Linked DNA regions of Homo sapiens: regions 2, 3 and 4 are each linked to region 1. The links come from fine-mapping of genetic effects on gene expression. A gene starts in region 1. Each other region holds a variant in brackets. All regions are shown on one strand. Distances are between the middles of the regions. Region 1 holds the start of DNAJC15 (DnaJ heat shock protein family (Hsp40) member C15). Region 2 overlaps LINC00400 (long intergenic non-protein coding RNA 400). Region 3 overlaps DNAJC15 (DnaJ heat shock protein family (Hsp40) member C15). Region 4 overlaps DGKH (diacylglycerol kinase eta).

Evidence for each region. PIP is the estimated chance that this variant, and not a neighbour inherited with it, causes the effect.
Region 2: its variant is the best candidate, but not a certain one, in a credible set for the expression of DNAJC15 in subcutaneous fat (FUSION, PIP 0.57).
Region 3: its variant is the best candidate, but not a certain one, in a credible set for the expression of DNAJC15 in whole blood (INTERVAL, PIP 0.63).
Region 4: its variant is the best candidate, but not a certain one, in a credible set for the expression of DNAJC15 in uterus (GTEx, PIP 0.79).

Annotation. Positions count from the first base shown.
Region 1 is chr13:43,022,290-43,024,882 of GRCh38, forward strand. DNAJC15 (DnaJ heat shock protein family (Hsp40) member C15) reads left to right here and starts at 1,297. Exons shown (of 6, transcript NM_013238.3): 1 at 1,297-1,445. The coding sequence starts at 1,338. RefSeq lists enhancers at 1,116-1,175, 1,186-1,235, 1,746-1,795.
Region 2 is chr13:43,119,502-43,122,094 of GRCh38, forward strand. All of the region lies in intron 1 of LINC00400 (long intergenic non-protein coding RNA 400), which reads left to right. Among named protein-coding and RNA genes, the nearest start is that of LINC00400, 7.6 kb to the left of the region's middle. RefSeq lists an enhancer at 1-417. The variant C/T (reference allele first, on the strand shown) is at 1,094.
Region 3 is chr13:43,047,766-43,050,358 of GRCh38, forward strand. The region is part of intron 1 of DNAJC15 (DnaJ heat shock protein family (Hsp40) member C15); the gene reads left to right. Among named protein-coding and RNA genes, the nearest start is that of DNAJC15, 25 kb to the left of the region's middle. The variant G/C (reference allele first, on the strand shown) is at 1,040.
Region 4 is chr13:42,062,430-42,065,022 of GRCh38, forward strand. The region is part of intron 1 of DGKH (diacylglycerol kinase eta); the gene reads left to right. Among named protein-coding and RNA genes, the nearest start is that of DGKH, 15 kb to the left of the region's middle. The variant C/T (reference allele first, on the strand shown) is at 1,281.

The DNA of each region.
Region 1 (2,593 bases):
GGACCTAACTTCTTAGACATGCTAATAATATTAACTAAGTGAACAAATTAATAGACCCTCAAAACTTTAAATTCAGGAATAGAAAAAAAATAAAGCTTTTTCTTCCTGTCAGCTGATTTTGCAAAGGGTATAAGGAGCCAAAGAGCTGCCACGTTGGTACAGAAGTTGGAAAACACCATACGCTTCAACTGCTGGTTAATTTTTGCTCTAAAAACTTGATGGAGGCCAGGCGCGGTGACTCACGCCTGTAATCTCAGCACTTTGGGAGGCTGAAGCGGGCGGATCACCTGAGGTCAGGAGTTTGAGACCAGCCTGGCCAACATGGTGAAACCTCGTCTCTACTAAAAATACACAAATTAGCCAGGTGTGGTGGCACGTGCCTTTAATCCCAGGTACTCGGGAGGCAGAGGGTGCAGTGAGCCAGAGATTGCGCCACTGCACTCAGCCTGGGCAACAGAGCGAGACTCCATCTCAAAAAAAAAAAAAAGCTTAATAATAAAATGGGCTTTTATATATACAAATCAGCACAAACTCATTTGAGGGAGAGTAAGATTTACCTACTTGCTCACAACTTTTTTTCCCCTGCCTCAGGCTCCTGAGTAGCTGGGATTACAGGGACGCACCACCACACCCAGCTAATCTTTGTATTTTTAGTAGAGACGAGGTTTCACCATGTCGGCCAAGCTGGTGTGATCCACCCGCCTCGGTCTCCCAAAGTGCTGGGATTACAGCGTGAGCCACCGCACCCGGCCACAACTTTCTTCTGTGTAATTTCACCTTAAATACAGCCATTTACTTGGGGGTGGAGTAAGCAAATTGCCTCTTTAATTTCTCTCCCGGGGTGGTAGAACTGTGGCATTAAACAGAAGTGCGAACAGAAGTTGAGAGTGGGAAGAAAGGCTGCCCGGAAGGGGGTCAGGAAAGCTCAGGCAAGCCCACCCTCAGGCACTACAGCTAGACTCCGAGCTTACTGGGCAGTCATCTGATTCGACCAACATCAGTTCGCAGGGCTTAAGCCCAGTCCCTTACGGCGGCCTGGGGAGGGACCAGGCCCAAGTATATAAAGCTCCCTGAGGGTCCGCGTTGGCTTTGCGCCTGTGAGTGTGATTCAAGAACGTCCCAGTGCCCTTGGCTCCTTTCGGAGTGTGACCCCGTGCTTGCACGGGACACGTTACCCAGCTCGGGTGAGAAGGGTATCTTCCGGGAACCTCGCCTTTAATAGCACAACGAGCGCAGAGTCCACTGGATCTGCGAGAAGAAACCGCGCTAACTAGTTTGTCCCTACGGCCGCCTCGTAGTCACTGCCGCGGCGCCTTGAGTCTCCGGGCCGCCTTGCCATGGCTGCCCGTGGTGTCATCGCTCCAGTTGGCGAGAGTTTGCGCTACGCTGAGTACTTGCAGCCCTCGGCCAAACGGCCAGACGCCGACGTCGACCAGCAGAGACTGGTGAGTCCTGCCAGCGGCCCCCACCCCTCTCTGGCTCCCTTGTAGTTTCTGCTTCAGCCCCCTCTACCGCCTCACCCTTGAACCTTTGTACTCCCCCGCATTCGCTCACGGTCTGTGCCCTAGCGCTCACTTGTTCAGTGGAGAGACCGCTTTGTGCTGGGCTTTGACGCCTGGGCGTGGAAGACGGAGCAGTTCTGAGGATCTGTCTCCTCAAGGAGCTTCCAGTCTTGTCTGGGACACAAACCAGAAAACAGGCAATTGCAAATACAGTAAAATAAGTGCTGTATGTGGATTTTCCTATCTCATAGGAGGCCCTAAAAACGTCTTGCAGGGGACGTGGTGGGATCAGGGACGCTTCTTGGAGAAAGCTGTAGTTAAAAATTAAGATCTGAATGAATAAAAACAGTCCATTCAGCAAGGAGAAGGGGAAAAAGTGTTTCGGGTACCAGGACTACTGTCTCCAAAGTCTCCGGCACAGAAACAGGGCCCAGTTGGAAACTCCAAGTGGTGTATTCAGGATGAACTGTAGAGCTGGAAAAAGGAAGGGTCTAACAGAAAACTGTCCAACAGAAGCATATTGTGAGCCACATACGTATTTTTACGTTTTTTTTTTTTTTTTTTTTTTTTGAGACGGAGTCTCGCTCTGTCGCCCAGGCTGGAGTGCAGTGGCGCGATCTCGGCTCACTGCAAGCTCCGCCTCCCGGTTTCAGGCCATTCTCCTGCCTCAGCCTCCCAAGTAGCTGGGACTACAGGCGCCTGCCACCACTCCCGGCTAATTTTTTGTATTTTTAGTAGAGACGGGGGTTTCACCGTGTTAGCCAGGATGGTCTCGATCTGCTTACCTCGTGATCCGCCCGCCTCGGCCTCCCAAAGTGCTGGGATTACAGGCGTGAGCCACCGCGTCCGGCATATTTTTAAGTTTTTTGTAGCCATATTAAACAACTGAAGAGAAACAGGTGGGTTTGATTTTAACCATGTATTTTCTTTAACCTGATATATGCACAGTTGCATGGTAATTTTCAACATTCAATATGAAATATTGCCCAAGTGGTGGTTTAGGCTTGTAATCCCAGCGCTTTAGGAAGCCCAGGCAGGAGGATCACTTGAGGCCATGAGTTTGGAGGACAGCCTGGGCAACACAGGAGACC
Region 2 (2,593 bases), 97 kb after region 1:
GGGCGTAACTGAGGGCAAATCACTCTGAGGGCTTTTCTTCTGCCACAGCACTTTTATACAAGCGAAACAGAAAAAAAGGGCAGCCTGGAGAAAGATTATGATCAAAGCAGGCAGCTTAAAGAGTGATGGTAAGGAAAGGGGAAAGGAGACAGCCAAACGGGGTGGTGAGAACCAGCCTGCACCCGCACATCTGACTGTGAAGGCTCTCTGACTTTCAGTGCAACTGTCCAAAGTGATCGTCTCTTTCACCCGCTCAGAAGTCAAGGACTGGGAGACTCATTATTTTGAATAGAGTTTCCCCGAATCATTATTGGGAAGTTCAAGTGTGGTCCCAGGATCAGCAGTGCAGCATCATCGGAGAGCTGGTCAGAAATGCAGAATCTCAGACCCTGCCACAGACCTGCTGAGTCAGAATCTCGAGTGGTGGAGCCTAGGAATACGCATTTTAACAAATTCACAAGTGAGCATGATTGAGAAGCACTGCTGTGTATAGTGAAAATAGAGCAAACTTTAGGGGCAAACAGCACTTTTGAGTTTGAGCCCTGGCTCTTTCACTTACTGTGTGATCTTTGAAAGGTTGCTTAACTCCTCTGAACTCGTGTTTCCTCATTTGTAAATTGGGGATACAAAGATTTACCTTAATAATGGAGTCCAAGGAAATTGTGAATGAAATAGAGGGGGGTCTTTGGACTTGGATTGGAAAAAAAATCATTTTTGTTTTTCACAAATTTCTAACTAAAATTTAGCATTTTCTTTTATTATGAATGTCAGCAACATTTGTTAGCAGCCTGTGACTTTGTCACCAGAACAAGCCACACATATTTCTTTTTCTATTTCTTTCTTTTTTTTTTTTGAGACAGAGTCTCGCTCTGTCGCCCAGGCTGGAGTGCAGCGGCACAATTTCGGCTCACTGCAAGCTCTGCCTCCCGGGTTCACGCCATTCTCCTGCCTCAGCCTCCCGAGTAGCTGGGACTACAGGTGCCCGCCACCACGCCTGGCTAATTTTTTGTATTTTTAGTAGAGACGGGGTTTCACTGTGTTAGCCAGGATGGTCTCGATCTCCTGACCTTGTGATTCGCCCACCTCAGCCTCC[C/T]AAAGTGCTGGGATTACAGGCGTGAGCCACTGCGCCCCTATATTACATTACAGTTGTTACAGATAACTCCAAATATCATTTGTATTCATCCAGTTCAAAATTACAGTTGCTTTTAAACTTGCCGCTAGATATTTAATGCATTAGTAATGAGGCACATACACCATGATATCACAAATGTTTTTTAATTTTATAAAAACTGCATTTTGAATTAATTGGTTTCCTTTATAATTTTTTTTATACGCAGTTGAAAACATTATTTGACGAGAGGTCCATAGACTCATGGCACAAAACACTTTCAAAAGCCCTCCCTGCCTGGAAAGTTGTTGTGATGATTTAGTGATGGAATCAAATGTGTCCAGCACTTTTTAGTGATTCAAATAACAGTGCCCTGATTGTCCTCCCCAACATTGTCACGTCTTGCTTTGTGCTAAGCCTGGGCCAAAGATTCTCTAGACTTTCCTGGGGGTGTGTGAGAATACACACTGTCTGGTCAACTTTCCCTGCAGGCATTTCTCTGGCTAATCCTGGTTTTATGGAATGAGAGCTGTTGTGTGTTGAGTGCCTGCTCTTTGCCAGATTGGTGAAGTATGCTGCCTTGAATCACATGGCCAGTTAAGTGGGAAAGCAGGTGGGTGGTCTCCATGCTGCCATGTATATTCCTGGGTGGAGCTAAGTCCAGATGTTGGCGGACAGACTAAGGACTCCTGCATCCTCCTAGTTCAAGAAGATGACAGAAGGGCTATCAGTGAAATCACTAAGCACCTACAATCTCTTAGTTCTTGTACATTCAATAAGCATTAATTAAGCACTTACTATGTGCCTGGCCCTATGCTAGTCACTGGGATACGCAGCTGGATAGGCCGTGAGCCTTGGCTCTAAGAAGACTCTATGGGCCCTGGGAGCAGAGAAGGGTATCCCCTAAACCAGTGGGGCAGAGGTGGGGACTGAAACAAGGTTCCCCTGAGCAGGTGGTTAATTTGTCAAATTGGCTGGGCACTGTAATGCCCCGGTGTTTGGTCAAACATTATTCTGGATGTTTCTGTGGGGTGTTTTTGGATGAGATTAACATTCTAATGGGAGGACTTTAAGTAAAGCAGATTGCCCGCCATAATGTGGGTGGGCCTTATCCAGTCAGTCAAAGACTTTCATAGGACAAATACTGACCTCCTCCAAGCAAGAAGGAATTCTGCCAGCAGACAGCCTTCCGACTTCAGCTGCAGCGTGACTTCTTCCCTGGGTCTCCAGCCTGGTGACCCACCTGGCAGATTTTCAACTTTCCAGCCTCTATAACCTCCTGAGCAAATCTCTTAAAATGGATCTCCCCTTCTATCTGCACCTCCCATTGATTCTGTTTCTCTGGAGTGCCCTAATACAAAGTCCAACTGGCTATATTCATTTGTGATTATGCTCCTATGTGCTTTACTTTTTATTTGATTATGTCTCATTACACAGTTCCTGTCCTGGGGTTCTGGGCCCCTGAGGGATTTTCATTTTATTACA
Region 3 (2,593 bases), 25 kb after region 1:
TGCTGCATGGATGAAAAACTTGAAGGCTTATTTAGAAAGTAAAAGTTTAGTACGAGCCATGAGGAATGGGAAAGGGTACTAATTAATGATGAGGAAGATGATGGTACAGAGTAGGCTTGAAGGGCCAGCGGGCATCAGAAACCATAACTGTGTAATGATGCTATTTAGTGAGAACATAAGATTTTTCTTTAGCTAGACCTAGCAGTCTAGGATGAGGATTCTCTGTGGTAACTCTGCCACCATTTTGAAACCATTCGATTTCACTGACAATTTGCCATCTGTTGCTTTCTGCAGTGCTATTATGCATATGCCTGGAAGTTTTTAAATCCAAAATATTCATGCATTGTATATGGTCAGAGAGAATGCAGTGAAAGCTATGCTTTTTGTAATTTTTGACAAGTGTACTCTAAAGTAATGAATTTTAAAAACTTAGGCCGGGTGCATTGGCTTACGCCTATTATCCCAGCACTTTGGGAGGCCAAGGCAGGTGGATCACCTGAGGTCAGGAGTTCAAGACCAGCCTGACCAAAATGGAGAAACCTCGTCTCTACTAAAAATACAAAAAAAAAAAAAAAAATTACCCGGGTATGGTGGCTCATGCCTGTAATCCCAGCTACTGGGGAGGCTGAGGCAGGAGAATCGTTTGAACCCGGGAGGCGGAGGTTGTGGTGAGCCGAGATTGCGCCATTGCGCTCTGGCTTGGGCAACAAGAGCAAAACTCTGTCTCAAAAATAAACAAAAAACAAAAAGCTTAAATACCCTTGTCCCATATCACATAAATTTGTTTTTTGAATATATATCATCTTTTTTTCCCCCATGGTGACCATGACAGATTATTAAAAACTAAATTTCTAAATTTGATGTAAGTAGAATGTTAGGTTTTTGGTTTTTCTTACATAGAGACCACTGTTCCCAAACATTATGCTGGACCAGTTGTAAAAGAATTTTTTTGGTGGCATTTGTAACTGATTTCATTTTTAAGTATATATGTGCATATATTTATAGAAAGATCAGCTTGTTCTATAAGTAGAAGTATGTG[G/C]TACCCTAATTTTGTGTAACAACAACAAAAATATATCCAATAATTAGATTTTCTGCAGGCCTAGAAAATGTTAGCTACTTTTTTAAGCCATAAACGTCTGAATCGTCAGATAAAATGTTTCAAAACTAAAACTTGCCCAAGGCAGCCTTGTGAATTTTTTTTTAAAGAATTAAAAAAAAAGCCTCATATGGCATCCATATTCATCATCTACTGCTACATATGTGTGACACTTACGGCAGTTTTAGCCTATACTAGGGTACAGGAATATACTTACTTTTTTAAATCATACTTCCTGATTTCTTTTATTTTCATATCCCAATTTTTCCTAAGTCAAAGAAACAGCAACATTTCTGTTTCTGCAGAATTTAACCTGGTTATTGCCTAGTTGGTAGAAAATGACTGTAGTTGTGGTACCAACACTATGCCTGATTCACCATTTTACTATTATATTGTCTTTTCAATGTCATTTTTTCTCATTCTGTTACTGGCAGTTTAGTTTTAAAGCATCATTGTTTAAAAAACATTCAAAATAAAAGTCGAAATACATCTTCATGTTTACAACTGGATCAGATATGGTGTTGTGCATATAAAAGAAACAAAATACAGATCCTCTTAGCCCAAGGATATGATACTGAAGTTTAGTAAACGAGAAATAGCATAGTGATGAAAGCATGCTAATTGTTTTTCAACAATAGTAAAATAGAGAACATGTTAATGGAATTATCTGATATTTACACAGTTATGCCAAGTAAACCATAGGTTATTCAGAAACCCCAGTGTGTTTTAGATGTTATTTTATTTTTAAAATTAAAGCCAAAGAAAGGTATGGTCAGGAGTTCTGTGTTGAGTTACTTACTTAGACTTAGATTGACTCCCTTTCTCTTATACTTCTGTTTTCTACATTTGAAACTAGTTTCTTTTTCCTGTTTGAGTCATTCATATATGTGGAAGTTTGAGGAGAATTGTTACTGTTTTACAGCTCACAAAATCTGTGTCTGAAAAGAAATACCAATGGCTTTTTAGCAAATAAAAAAATGTTAGGTAGTAGATAAATTTTTTTCTAGGAAACAATTCATATTATTCTGGGCCAGTTAAAGTTTTGTTTGTTTGTTTGTTTTATTTTATTTGTTTGAGACAGAGTCTTGCTCTGTGGCCCAGGCTGGAGTGCAATGGCATGATAATCGGCACACTGCAACTTCCACTTCCCAGGTTCAAGCAGTTCTCCTGCCTCAGCCTTTTGAGTAGCTGGGGCTACAGGCACCTGCCAACACACCTGGCTAATTTTTTGTATTTTTAGTAGAGACGGGGTTTTGTCATGTTGGCCAGGCTGGTCTCGAATTCCTGACCTCAGGTGATCCACCTGCCTCAGCCTCCCAAAGTGCTGGGATTACAGGCATGAGCCACTCTGCCCGGCCAGTTTTAATTGCTTGTAAATCTAACAGCCTTACTATTTCCACAGGAAACTTTATAAGTACTTTTATTCTTTCCTTTAAAATTTTAAAAAATTTTTTAGTTTTTTTGAGACAGGGTCTCACTCTGTCACCAAGCTGAAGT
Region 4 (2,593 bases), 960 kb before region 1:
TCTTGCACAGCTAGAGATGAGTTGTAAATTTGATCCCGGGTAGCCAGAGCAGCAAGACCAGTTATAAAGTCGTATTACCAGCGGGAAAAAAGCCCTCTAGATTTTAAGGGGGAAAAGCTTTTCTAGCTTTCCTTGGGGGAACCAAAGAAATATGTTCTATCAGTCTTTGATGTGGGTGGGAGTGAGGTCTGCAATATGTTCCCCTCACCTACATCCACTTGGGAGGTGTCCTTATGATGTCCTCCCTTGTGAGGTCAGGACATAATCCAGACTTCAACTTTGTGTGACAGTAGTTCTGTAGGAGATGTAATTAAGGCAGTTTTAGTTACGGCCAACTTCAGGCATAAAATCCAAATTATTTTTGAAGATTGAATAAATGGCATGTACTTGAAACAGTTCTCGGGTTAAACCAGGTATCTGCTGAAATACTTTCAAAGTGTAGAATCTCAGGTTATCTGCGTTTTTATTTATCTGTTCACTTGTAGTTGATACAAGGGGATGGAGTGATATGTTCTTAGCTATTATGGGAAGAAAAATCTGGTATTTCTTGGTGGCTCTCATAAAAACTGGTAAAATGATTCTACATTCAGGTTTAAAAAATGTTCTTTGGAGCTTTATGAGTGCATTGCAGAATATTAAAAGCTGTGTGTATTTTAGGATTATTGTGAAAATAGTGTTGACTTCATGGACCTTTGAAAAAGGTCTTGGGAACACTTGAAAATCCTGCTAGGGCAATGTATCTGGACCTATTTTTTTTTTTGAAGAGAGTGCCATGAGGATATCTGGAGGAAGAGCAGAGCAAGCTGAAAGAACAGCAAATGCAAAGGTTTTGAGGAAGAGACACACCTGACACATTCCAGGGATGAGCATTCCCGAACAGCTGACACATTCCAGCTGGTGGGAAGGGAGTGAGGGGAAAGTGAGTAGCAGGAAAAAAAGTCAGACATCAGGGGAGCAGTAGAGAGGTTGCTGTGACAATTTCCTTGACAGTTTAGCACAGTGGTTAGCACATAATTAGCACTTAATAGATGCTAGTTACCATATTAATATTAAAAGAATACTATTGCCGATCCATTAGCAAGTTTGATCTTTAAAATCAGCATCTAAAACAAACCCTTTAAACGAGAGGAGGGAAAAAATGAAGCAGTGGCTGGAGAGGGATGCTGGGGTCAAGCTACAGCTTTTTTAAAAAAGTGAAATGACTTTTTTAGGAGAAAGACTGTGGGCTGGCCGGATGTGGTGGCTCACGCCTGTCATCCCAGCGCTTTGGGAAGCTGAGG[C/T]GGGTGGGTCACCTGAGGTCAGGAGTTCGAGACCAGCCTGACCAACATGGAGAAACCCCGTCTCTATTAAAAATACAAAATTAGCCGGGCTTGTTGGCGCATGCATGTAATCCCAGCTAGTCGGGAGGCTGAGGCAAGAGAATCTCTTGAACCTGGAAGGCGGAGGTTGTGGTGAGCTGAGATCGCACCATTGCACTCCAGCCTGGGCAACAAGAGCAAAACTCCGTCTGAAAAAAAAAATATATATATATATATACTGTGGGCTGAGGAGAATAATCTAGCTGAGAGAAAAGATTAAATGATGCAAAAAAAGAGAGGAGAATTACTGGAGCAATGTCCTTATATATGCGAGATGGGGTGGGATGGCGTGAGGAGCTGGGCTTCCCTCAGAGCAGGTCAGTTTATCCATACAAGCCACTTTATCCATAAAATGCAGTAGGGGCAGAGGTTGGCACTTCTAGAAATTATTTTCTGATTATTTTGATTTTCCCAGTGGAATATGAAGTTAGGTCGTCAGCTGAGAATCAAGATGGAGAGGGTATGGAGGTCTGAGGCTAGAGGAAAGGTATGAAATGCTTGAACAGGGGCGTGGGAAAGGGAATAGACTAGAGAAATGCAGCAGTGTGAATATCAAGTTGCATTTAGGGCACACCTGAGCCGGGTGACCAGGACTCTAAGCGCTGTCAGCCTGGTGTGGGATCATGTTCAGCTGCTTGGGTGCAGTAAGTGAAGTGGAGGACAGGGTCAAACCACTGTTGCGGTTTGTCTGTGTGTGCCAGGAAAAGCGTGGGTGGATACAGTAACAAGCTCTGGAAATGATGTTGGATGAAGAGTGAGGGCTCGAGTCAGGTCCTAGGGAGTAACCATGGGACTGAGCAGCTGAGGTAGGAAGGAAGAGAAGACTGTTGGCAGAGGTTAAGTCCAAGAATTAAACTTTAATCATTCAAATTTAAAAAAGGAAAGAAAGAAAAGAAAGAGTACTAAAAGAAACTGTATAATTTTAATGATTTTAGATATGCATTAGAGATGCGTTAATAACAGGTTTTGCTGGGGAAAATCTCTAGCTCATGTATGCACAGCTGGGGGCCCTCTTTAGTAAAATACAAAGACCGTTTTACTTAGAACACAAAAAGAAAGTATCCTAAAGAAAGAAATAAATCTGATTTGGATTTTTTTTTTTAAATTTACAAATGAAACCCTGAAATGCATTGAAGAACACGAGTCCCAGTTTGAGTTCCTATTAGGCAAGTTATATAACCTCTTCAAACCTTACTTTTCCTCATATGTAAACGTTCATAAGGATATTCTGAGGA